2 separate regions of the Homo sapiens genome follow, and region 1 is linked to region 2. Evidence: fine-mapped expression QTL. A gene starts in region 2. The other region holds a variant in brackets. All regions are shown on one strand. Distances are between the middles of the regions. Region 1 overlaps LPP (LIM domain containing preferred translocation partner in lipoma). Region 2 holds the start of TPRG1-AS1 (TPRG1 antisense RNA 1).

Region 1 (5,381 bases), 120 kb before region 2:
AGAACTCTAACTCTCCTTTAACCGCGTGCAAAATTGTGAACCTGGGATGCGTGAGGGAGTGGTTATTTTGTGCTGAATGGTATGTCAGCTACATCACCACAGATGTGAGATCAGCAGACTTGCTTATTCTGAGTGCCGTCAGAATCGTTAAGTACCATATGTCCAGTGTCATCTTTGGCACATTTATCTGGCTTCATCTGAGTTCCGAAGTGAAATCTCACAGCCGCCTTCATAAATTTAGCCATCAAAGACCAAGGTGATGATGACATACCAAGCTTTAGAATCCTCAAGTAGGGTGGGATATTGGTGCTGGGAATGACGAATGAAGGGACATCTGAGAATCATGCTGCTTTTATGGATTAGCAGAAATTCATCTTACGTGACCAAGAGCAGCTGCATAATGGCTAGAAAACATTTGCCCTTTCTGCTTATGTTTTGGTTATCCCAACACATTCTATGTGCAATGTCTGAGTTTGAAAGTTCTTTTTAAACTATAAAATCATTTCCCAAAGTTAGGACTGATTATGAATATCATCAATGATTGTTTTTAAATGTCATTATGGTAAAGTCATAGAATAGTGACCATCTGTGCTGCCTTTGTCTTTGTATAGGTGCAGTAGTCCCAGCCTTTCTTTCTCTCTCTCTCTCTCTCTCTCTGTGTGTGTGTGTGTGTGTGTGTGTGTGTGTGTGTGTGTGTGTGTGTAGGATCACTGGAGTATGGTGGTGAAGAAAGCTGTCACAGCACAGAAGTTCAGAAGGAGGTACTGTGAAGGTCCCAAAGCATTGAGCTTAGCTAGTTCTGAAAGCACTAAGGTTAACTAGTCAACTCGAGAGTTGGGTGTATATACTGCTAAGGAAGGGTTCAACCCAGGGGGCTCTTGCTCTCCCAAGACAGGAAACATGTATCTGAAGTGTGAATCTATTGCTATTATCCTCAGTTTGGCAGGCGACAGGGTTCTGAGAGTGAGAGAGTAATGGAATGTGTATGTCTCTGCTCTTGAAGATACCAGGGGCACCTCGAAAACTCCCCTCCCCAGCCCAGGGTCACCACAGCCTTAACCGACTGCCTCCTTTGCAAACCTTTACCATGGGTACCTAGAAAAAGACATACACACACACATTTCAGCTTATGGTTTTTGTTCGTTTGTTTTTGTTTTTTGTTTGTTTGTTTGTTTTGCCAGATACTTAAGATTTAAGGGCAATCTTAAGGGAAATCTCTTCTCCCATCTTGACTGAGGCACAGAGATGTCCTGTTCCCATGCTGTTGATGCTGACAGACGTAGGACACGTTTTTTTCTCCGTGTGCCACCACACTCAAGCAGAATGTATAAGATATTTTCTGTCTACCAAGGATACCTGGTGACATAATCATACCTAGCCTTTCTTTCCTCCCTCCGCCCCCTCAGCCTCTCACCCTGCCCTCCCATGGGTCTTTATGTGTGCTACTCTATGTAGAGTACAACTCATACCGGATAGCCTGTTACTTATTTTGGTTCAGGAGCAGCTGCAGAGGATGAACTGGAGAGGACAGTCTACTTGCAAACACTTGTAGACTCTCCAGTGGACAGGTTACCTCTAAAGAAAGAGAAGCCTACGCTTTCCTACTCACTGAAGTTTTTTACCATTTGCAAGTGGATCCAATATATGTTTGTTTTGGGTGAGGGGCTAACAAAATGCTCTGCGGTTTCTGCAGGTTTCCTTATAGGAGATCCTGTTATCCTCGTGTCGATTCTTGCCCCATTAGCTTTCAGCAGTAAATAGTTGAGGGTCTCATCTGGAAAGTTCTATTATTAGTACCACATGGTCAGTACATTTTAAGATAGACATTTTAATAGGCAGAAAACTGTATACAAGGAGAGATGTGCAATGCAGAATAACTATCAAATGATATCTAGATATCTTAGATTGCTACTCTAGGCCATCCATGGTCTTACCCCATGGGTTCCTCTAACTCCCTTCATCCTCCCTTAACATTAGCTGTAGGTTTTCTCATCACTGTCTTTGCTCACGTTATTTTCTCTGCCTTGAATTCCCTCCCTCAAGCTCCCCACACCAGCACCACCAGCATGTACCCTGTTCTTTAAGACTCAACTCAAATACCTCTGCCTCAAAAACATATTGCCCTAATTGTCCTGGCTGAAAGTGACAGTCATCTCTGGACCCCCCCCACTCTCATCTCTGCACCTCTCTATGTCATCCTTAATCACTTTCTGACTTGTGTTCTTACATAGTTGAATATGCCTTATCTCTACTACTTGATATTAAACTTCATAATGATGATAAGATCCTATCTTATCTTCTCCTGTCTCTTCCCTGATCAGGCCTAGGGTAGTTCCTCCCACACTGTACTGTTAAGAGAATACATAATGAAAAAGTAAATGAATAAATGGCAGAAACCTTATGTGGAATGCTGGTGCAAACAGTTCCTTTGACTGGGGGCTTTTAAAAAGAGACTGATTGTATAGGAGATCTGAGCAATTTTCATATTAATGGAATG[G/A]ATTATTAGAGCTGGCATGAACATCAAAAGAATCTAGCCACAACCACCTCTCAGGTCATCTTCATTTTCAAATGGGGAATCTAAGATTTAGATAGGACCATTCCAGATCACATAGTGAGTGATTAATAGACCTAGGACTCATACCTCATCTGACATCCAACACCACATGTTCTTTTGAAATAAGGCTGGAATAATAGTGAGACACACATATTAGACACATGATTGTGAGAAGACAGTTTTCCACCCCACAGCACATGACCCCATACGTTTAAGTCCCTGCCTATACAAATAGTACAGACAAAGTAACAGCAACTTTAGAGGGAAACATGACTATTTCCATCATATGGTGATTCTACAGAGCAGAATCAGAAACCTGGGTAAAGAGAAAAGTCCTACTCAGTTTCATTCTTGTTAAAAGACTTAATGACTGGAGTTCAAACTGGCGGAGTCATTGGCAGCATTAAAGAAGTGGGGTTGAAGCTGGGCAACATTTCCACAACAGGGAGTGGAACAGAGAGACAGAAAATATTGGGAGTCTTGTGCCCCATCAGTAGAAGGAGATGAAGGCCAGAGCCAAATGGTGGGGGCAGGGGTAGGGGGAAGATTCCTTTCTCCAGCATGTAACAGCATTATGGGAGTGAATTCAGAGCTTCTGTGTGTTCTGAGCCAAGTGCCTGCTGGAATGTGGACTGTAAATCTCTCATCGTCCTCTTCACTGACCCACAAGCAACCCCTGCTCCTCCCATCTGCTTCCCGACCACCTGCCTTTCAGTTTTTCTTTATATAAAAAACGTTTTCCATTCTCCTACCTTCCTCTCTGTCTACCTTTGTATGGTACATCTCATCCCTCTTCTAAATATTTCCATCTGACCACATTTTTCCCTAATGAGACAGGCTCACAATAGGATAAAGTGTAACATTTATTCATTTATCTGCTCAGCAAATATTATTGAGCACATACTGTGTCCTAGGCACCACTTTAGTTCTTGAGTGGTCAGCAGTAAAGAAAACAGACAAAAAAATAATACCCTGGTGGAGTTTCCATTCTAGTGGGGACACAATAAACAAAATAATTGGCAAATTATATAGAATATTGGAAGGAAGTACATGCTGGGAGAGAAATAAGCTGGGAGGGAAAAGGGAGTGCTGGGGGAGAAGGAGCTAAGAGTCTCAGTTCCAGAGTTAGGCAGCCTGAGCTGGAATTAGAACCCCAGCTGCATGCAGTGGCTCATGCCTGTAATCCCAGCACTTTGGGAGGCCGAGGTGGGCGGATCACCTGAGGTCAGGAGTTTGAGACTACCCTGGCCAACATGGTGAAACCCAGTCTCTACTAAAAATACAAAAAAAAAAAAAAATTAGCTGGGCATGGTGGCGGGCACCTGTAATCCTAGCTACTTGGGAGGCTGAGGCAGGAGAATTGCTTGAACTCGGGAGGTGGAGGTTTCAGAGAGCAGAGATCACGCCATTGCACTCTAGCCTGGCAACAAGAGCGAAACTCTGTCTCAAAAAAAAAAAAAAAAAAAAAAAAAACTCAGCTGCATCCTTCCCAGTCATGTGACCTGGGCAGGTTAAGAGAACTCCCTGAGCCTCAGTTTTCTTGTCTGTTTATCAAGAGTCATTAGGGAAACTAGTATCTCCTTGGGTTGTTGCAGGGATTCAATGAGATGACACATGTAACACAATCATTACCTCGGGCCTGTCTCCTATAAATATAGTGATTGTCACGTTTGTTATTTAAACAATATTATATATTGTGTTTTAGGTATTATGTATGTAATATATAGTGTGAATATATGTATGCGTTATGTATATAGCATTATCTGACTTCGTGCCTCTAGTATTACATGCTTCTCAAAATATCTATAGTTTTGTCGGTATTTCTTTCTCCTACTAGATTGTGATCTTTTATCGGCAAAGACCACCTCTCATTTATCTCTATACCCCCCATTGTGCCCAGCACATCAGAGATTTTATGTTTGGCTGCTGAATGAGAAACAAATGGGATACTGTTCTTCTAAGCACAATCATCTTATATTAGCATTCATTTTTGGAACTCTTCTCTAATTCCTGTCATTTTTGTATCACATCAGAAGAAGAGCTATATTCCCTCCACCGCCTCTCCTCGCCTATTAATCACCATACCTTCCCACCTCTTACGGGAATACCGAACTAATGGTCCTTGTCTCAATGACCTGCCTATCCTTTGTCCCTTCATGGGAATCTTCTCACAGATCAAGTTACTATGATCTACAAGGCCAGTTCCCATAGCCTCGTTCCACTTACACACGATCTTAACCATTTCTGTCCAGTGGGAGTCACCCACTCACCTCCTAAAACCTCTATGCATGCCCCATACCCCTAGTCATAATACTCTTATACAAATGTTTAACACTTTGCAGTTGAAGACCCAATGTCATACATCTTTTCATTTGATACTTAGAGTCACTGTGTGAGGTACAAACTTCAGATATTACCAGTTGCATGTTACTAATAAGGAATCAGAAGCTCAGAGAGGGGGAATGAAAGAATCCAAGTATATGTGGCTAAAATTGGCCACGTCGACACCTGAAATCCTATTATCTGGGGCAATATACATACTGGGTTTGAAAAAGTTCACACTTAGCAGTTGAATGACCTGAGTCCTCACCCCAGCTTGGCTACTTACTCACCATGTGACCCTGAATAGTGCCTTGAAGCCTCAGGGTTTTTTTACTTCTGTAAAACAGTAACTCTTGCCCTCCCGGACACATGGGATAGTTTGAAGATTAAAAGATACATTGGCTGGGCATGGTGGCTCACATCTATAATCCTAGCACTTTGAGAGACTGAGGCAGGTGGATCACTTCAGTCCAGGAGTTTCAGACCAGCGTGGACAACACAGTGA
Region 2 (5,381 bases):
ATAGAGAGTCACAGGAAGGGTTTTATTTCAGCTCAAGGTTTCATTTTTTTTCTTTCTTTTCTCCCCAGTTCTTTCTGATTTCATTTTCTAAAACTGCAGCACATATATTTGAGGGATCATTAAAGAAGTCCTGCATTCCTGCTCAGTGAATTTTAAACTCTTCTACACCACCCTGGGCTACCTGTTTACTGAAGTTAAAGGTAGGAACAACCTTCTTGGAGAAACCTTTGTCCACGTTTGGATCACTGTGGTGGTCCTCTTGGCCTTGGGGTCAAAGAAGCATTCACTTGCTCATCAAGTCTTTATCGAGCTCCTACTATGGATGTCACTGTGGTAAGCCCTGGGACAAGTAAGAAAGGAAAGGCTCCTGTTCCCATCTCTCATGGAGTTTATAGGCCAACGTAAAAGATGAAACACAAGTAAATACACAAATACAACATCTAGGAGGTGCTACAAAGGAGCTATGAAGCTACCCTAGCTTCTGCTGCCTCATAACTGGCCCCAGAGCAAAATTTCTCCACTCATTATCATCCTGAGACTGTAGCACATCTGCCCTCCATGTCATCAGAGAGACTCACCTGGCCCTGCTGAGCTTGCCCTGGCTCCCTGGGACACCTGGTCTCCTTGCTTAGCTCCCAGTGTGCTTTCTCATTCTGCCCCTGCTCATTCTCCGCCGGCACTATGTTCTCTGAATGCTGGCAAGCTTGCTGTTCTCTAAATCCTCCCTTTCTTTTCCTGCTTTTGGGTCTTTGCTCTTGCTGATCCCTTTATCAGGAACTTCCCTCACCTCTACCTCCACTTGTCCAAATGCTACCAATTCTTCCAGGATCTGTTCATGCTCCTTTACCCTCACTGCAGCCATCCTGAACCCTTCTCCCCACCTTGGGGAGTATCTGCTTGTTCTTCCCTGGTGCTCATGGCATTTGGTTTATTGTGCTAATCAGAGCGCTCATCATCCACTGACTGGTATTACACAGTTACTTGTGTATCTGTCCTAGGCCCTTACCTACTTATCTCCAACCTAAAGGCATGTCTATTATTTCTGCATCTCAAATAGAAGCAGACACAGTTAATGCAAAACCATATTATTGAATAAGTGCTCAGTAATGATGACTATTATGCACTTGAGACTGGAGACCTAGGACAGAGACAGGAGCATATCTGGATTTAAATCCCAGTTCTACTGTATGTTAGCTGTGTAACCCTGGGCAACTTTATTTATTAATAATAAAGTATGTGAGCAATCTTATATCACTGTACAGAGTGCTCATATATGTTATCCAGCTTAATTCCTAGAACAACCCTGTGTGAGAAGAACTACTGAGTGCTGACACTAGTCATAGTGCTAGACTCATAGCTGAATTCAGATTCCAAATTAAGTAGCCTGATTGTAGATACAACCATTCACATGCGAACATTTTGCTTTTTTCCTGGCTCAGCACTGCCAGTACTGCTTCTTTGAGGTACAATTATGCCCATTTTACAGATGAGAAAACTGAGACTTAGAAAGCTTAAATAATTTGTCAGTATTGTAAAACTACCTATCTTTGTTATCAGAGAAACATGACTGTGACCAACCTAGGTATATACAATTTTCCACAGCCATGTGAAAGTTTTATGACTCTTTAACATTTCTGGTTGTCTGCTATGCTCGGTGCATTGGGCTGGCTGGACCTTGTATATGTTGGGAAGAAGGAGGACTTACAAAGACTAAGATACAGTCTTTGCTTCCAAGAGGTAAATAAAAAACAACTAAAATATTCTATCATCCACACCTATTCCCTCTCCCTTCTTTTTTCAGCATGTTACTGGATGCTGCCTCTTTATCCATCTGCCCTGGTGGAGATCTTGAGGTTACAGGAATAGCCAAGAGAGACACAGGCAGAGTTAAGTCCAAAGCAGTCAGCAAAGGTGGGGAGACATAGATGGGTCCAGGTGGTAAGTAGGATTGGCCTTGTTATTGGAAGCTGAATGTAGTTACTGGACTTGGAGATTTCGGTTTCTAGAGAAGACAGCAGCTCTCCATGCCCAGTTTAATACTGTGGATTAGCGTGGGAGTGGCCCCAGACCCACAGGCAGAAAAGGCCAATGGTCAGAGTGGAGATCCTCAGGACACTCCAGGTGTCTGAGGGAACGTAGGTTTATCCCTCTTTATTACTAAGTGGATTGCTGCTCCCCCTTGCAGGCCAAAGCATGAATACTGGACATAGCCCACATCGAGGGTAGAGAACTTGGTTTTGGCTCTCAAGTCGACCACTCATCAGCAGATGACTGTGAGCAAGTCACTTCCTCCCTCCAAGACTCCATTTCTACAGGGATTCCATAAAATGGGCATAAGAATTTTCACTGTGCTCGTATGGACTGGATTAGGCCATCATGTGCATTAACACACTTGGCTGTGAGCACTAGGTGCAGCCAAGATGCTGATGGGAAAGAAAAGTCTAGGTTTTGCCCCCTGCGTCGTTCCTCGTGACAGGATTATGCTGAGGGAGGGCACATTAGATTGACTCACACATACTGAAATGGTCATAGTTATTGAGGTTACCCAGTTTCCAGGCCTGAACTAGTAAACCCAGCAATGAGAATCAGCCAGCATTAGCAAGTTTTCCGTGTGGGAGTGGGGTGGGGGTGGGGACTGGAGGGAGCAGGCGCTGAACCAGGAAAGGAGGAGGATGCTCATCATTGGCTAAAGATCCATGCCTGGAAATTAACGGCGTTAAAGTGAGACTTGCTTCAGGTTCCAACCCGGTAAGGCAAATGGAGAGGCTGTCAGGAGACCAGAAGTTTACCTCAGCTATTGCACCGACGCACCACGTGCTCTGGTGCACATCCACCGCCTCTTCCTGCCTCAGTTTCTCCTTTTGTAAAACAACAGCTTGTAAAGGCCTGGGGATCTTCTCATCCACGGGAGTTTTCTAAGGATGCAGGCGAAAGAGGTAGGAAAAGTACTCTGTCTCTGTCCTGGGTGTTCGGGATCAAGGCCTTTTGAACCAATTCCGGAATCCGCCACCGGGCGGTGGTAGGAGAGAGCCAGAGGATTCGTCAGTAAGTGTGCGTGCGTGACAGAGGGCTTTTAAATAGATCGCTTTGTATCTAGCACGGTAGCACCTGCTTCTAAGCTTCCAACGGCAGCTCGAGCAACGCGATCATTCAGAAGCGGCCGCTTTCCATTCACGTCTATAATTAGCGCGCAGGCTGCAGCTCAGGCTCGAGCTGCAAAGCGGGGCGGCGGCCTTGTGGGCGGGGCCACCACCTCCTAGCCCCGCCCCCTTCGAATTCCACCTTCCCAGCCCTTCCCAGCCAGGAGCCTCCTGCAGCCTCCTCCCCACCCCCACTGTCTGTCCTCGCCCTGGTTCTGGGCTTCGCTCTCGGCGCTCCAGGATTCCTGGACGACAGGGCCCAATCGTACCCTCACTCTGGGATCACTCTTGTGCAGTAAATAAGCACCTTGAAAGATGCATTCCAGGAGGGCAGCTATATTTAGAGTGGCATCCTCCTCTCCTCCCCGCACGCTCCTGCGTCCCGCCCTCTCCCCTCCCCGCCCCGCTCCCCGATGCCCCTCCCAGCCACCTCTCCCTCTTTGTCGCATTACATAGTAATCTGAGATGCACTGGATGTGCTCCAGGGAACAGAATGTACTTGGCAGAGACGCGGGGCTTGATGTCTGCAAAATGTCGGAAACGCAGCCAAGAGCTGCTAACTGGGTCATTAACCTCCAAAAGCAAAGCGAGGACTGTAAGGCCCGCTCTGCCTCCCTTCATCTCGCCAATAAAAGTGCCTCAGTGTGAGGGGGAAGAAAAAGCCCAAGGTTGACTGCTTTGATTTCTAGGCACCAAAGGCAGGCCCGTCCTCTCGTCCTGGCCCAGGCCCCAGCCCCTCCGGGCCAGCCCCTGCGCCACATCAGAGTTTACAAGTGACCTTTGAAAGGCTCAGCAACCCCGCAGGGCCATGCTTGCGCCTCAGCAAAGAAGTTACCCAGCAGCCGTTCCCTACCGCACAGCCTTGGACACATTTTCTTGGGTCCAGGAGGAGTTAAGGGAGTGGGGGTGAGTAGGGGTGAAAGGAGAAGGTTCCAGGTCCTTCACCTACAGTGAAGGGCTCTGCTGTCTCTCCCCTCCTCTGCTTCTCTCCCTCTTTTTCCTCCCCCTCCTCTTTCTTCTTTCTTGTCTTCCTCCTCTCCCTCTTCCACTTCTTTCTGAGAGCAGGCTTTGAGGTAGGTTCATGAATACATGGCCTGGGTCCAGGGGATTTGCATTCAAGCCGCTTGCAGCTCTGTTACTTGCTATGTGACCTTGGGTGAGTCACTCATTTCTCTGCTTTTAAATTCCCTTCTTCTCCATTGTTCACCACAATAACACCTTCCTGACATACATCACAAAACAGTGAGGCCAAATGAGAAAGTCTTTCCCTGACCGCCTTGTCTTTCACCCCTCTGAAAGCCCTGAGGTCCAAAGTGCCTCTGGCCTTGTGTGTACTCCTGGAAAATAGGAATACAAGTGGTCTCACCAGAAAGATTCAAACGTTTGAATGTTTTCAAGGGGATAGCCCCTAAAATCCACCCTCTTCAAGTTTTCTAGCCCTGTGAGGTTGCCAAACAGACACTTCCCCCTAATGCTCCAACCCACTTCTCCAGTGGCTAGAGAGAGAAAGTGACCGGTACAGAAACCAGAAGAGGTTGTGCAGTTCCTCAAATGAGACTCCCTTCCTTGTTGGAGGGAAGACAGTCAGCCTGGTAAGACTAGCAGCAGCCCACGAGATGTGGGTCTGAGCAGTCTCAACAAAAGTCCAGGATGAGGAGAATGGAGATTTGTGCAGCCATGCTGATAAGAGGAGGAAAGCTCGCTCCTGGTGCTCTCTAGGAAATTAGAACCAAGCCCAGCCTGGCATCAGCACCCTTCCTGCCTCATCTCTCGTTGGTCTTACCACTCCTTCCATGGCAGCCACATCAGATGGGTTCTGGCTGGTCGCGGTGCTCCATGGACGCCTCCTGCTTTCCTGCCACTTGGGCCTTGGCTGAGATGTCTTAAAAAATTTTTTAAACTCATCAGAATTTGATGGCCTCTATTTGGCCTATCTCTGCCACACATTCAAATCTTTCACATCCCTCAAAACCCAGCTTCAATGCCATCTCCTCTATTTAGATGTCACTTCTTTCTCTTTCAGTCTCAGTACACCCAGCCAGCCTTGGGTTATGCCATTTTTGTGCTTGCTAGATCCCTCTTATGCCATAGAGATTTCTCTGTGGATACAAACTCTGCTGTTGATCTCAATACTGATGGCTAAGGTATATCATAATACATCATAAATACATCCTGGTTTGCCATCTCAGTTTATGACTTTGTCTTGGTATAATATAAAATGTACCTTATGGCTAAGGTACA

The links. PIP is the estimated chance that this variant, and not a neighbour inherited with it, causes the effect. A credible set is the group of variants that fine-mapping cannot tell apart.
Region 1: its variant is the best candidate, but not a certain one, in a credible set for the expression of TPRG1-AS1 in whole blood (INTERVAL, PIP 0.58).

What each region holds. Positions count from the first base shown.
Region 1 is chr3:188,824,614-188,829,994 of GRCh38, forward strand. All of the region lies in intron 9 of LPP (LIM domain containing preferred translocation partner in lipoma), which reads left to right. Among named protein-coding and RNA genes, the nearest start is that of TPRG1-AS1, 120 kb to the right of the region's middle. The variant G/A (reference allele first, on the strand shown) is at 2,498.
Region 2 is chr3:188,944,490-188,949,870 of GRCh38, forward strand. It overlaps TPRG1-AS1 (TPRG1 antisense RNA 1), which reads right to left and starts at 3,150. Exons shown (of 2, transcript NR_046873.1): 1 at 2,790-3,150.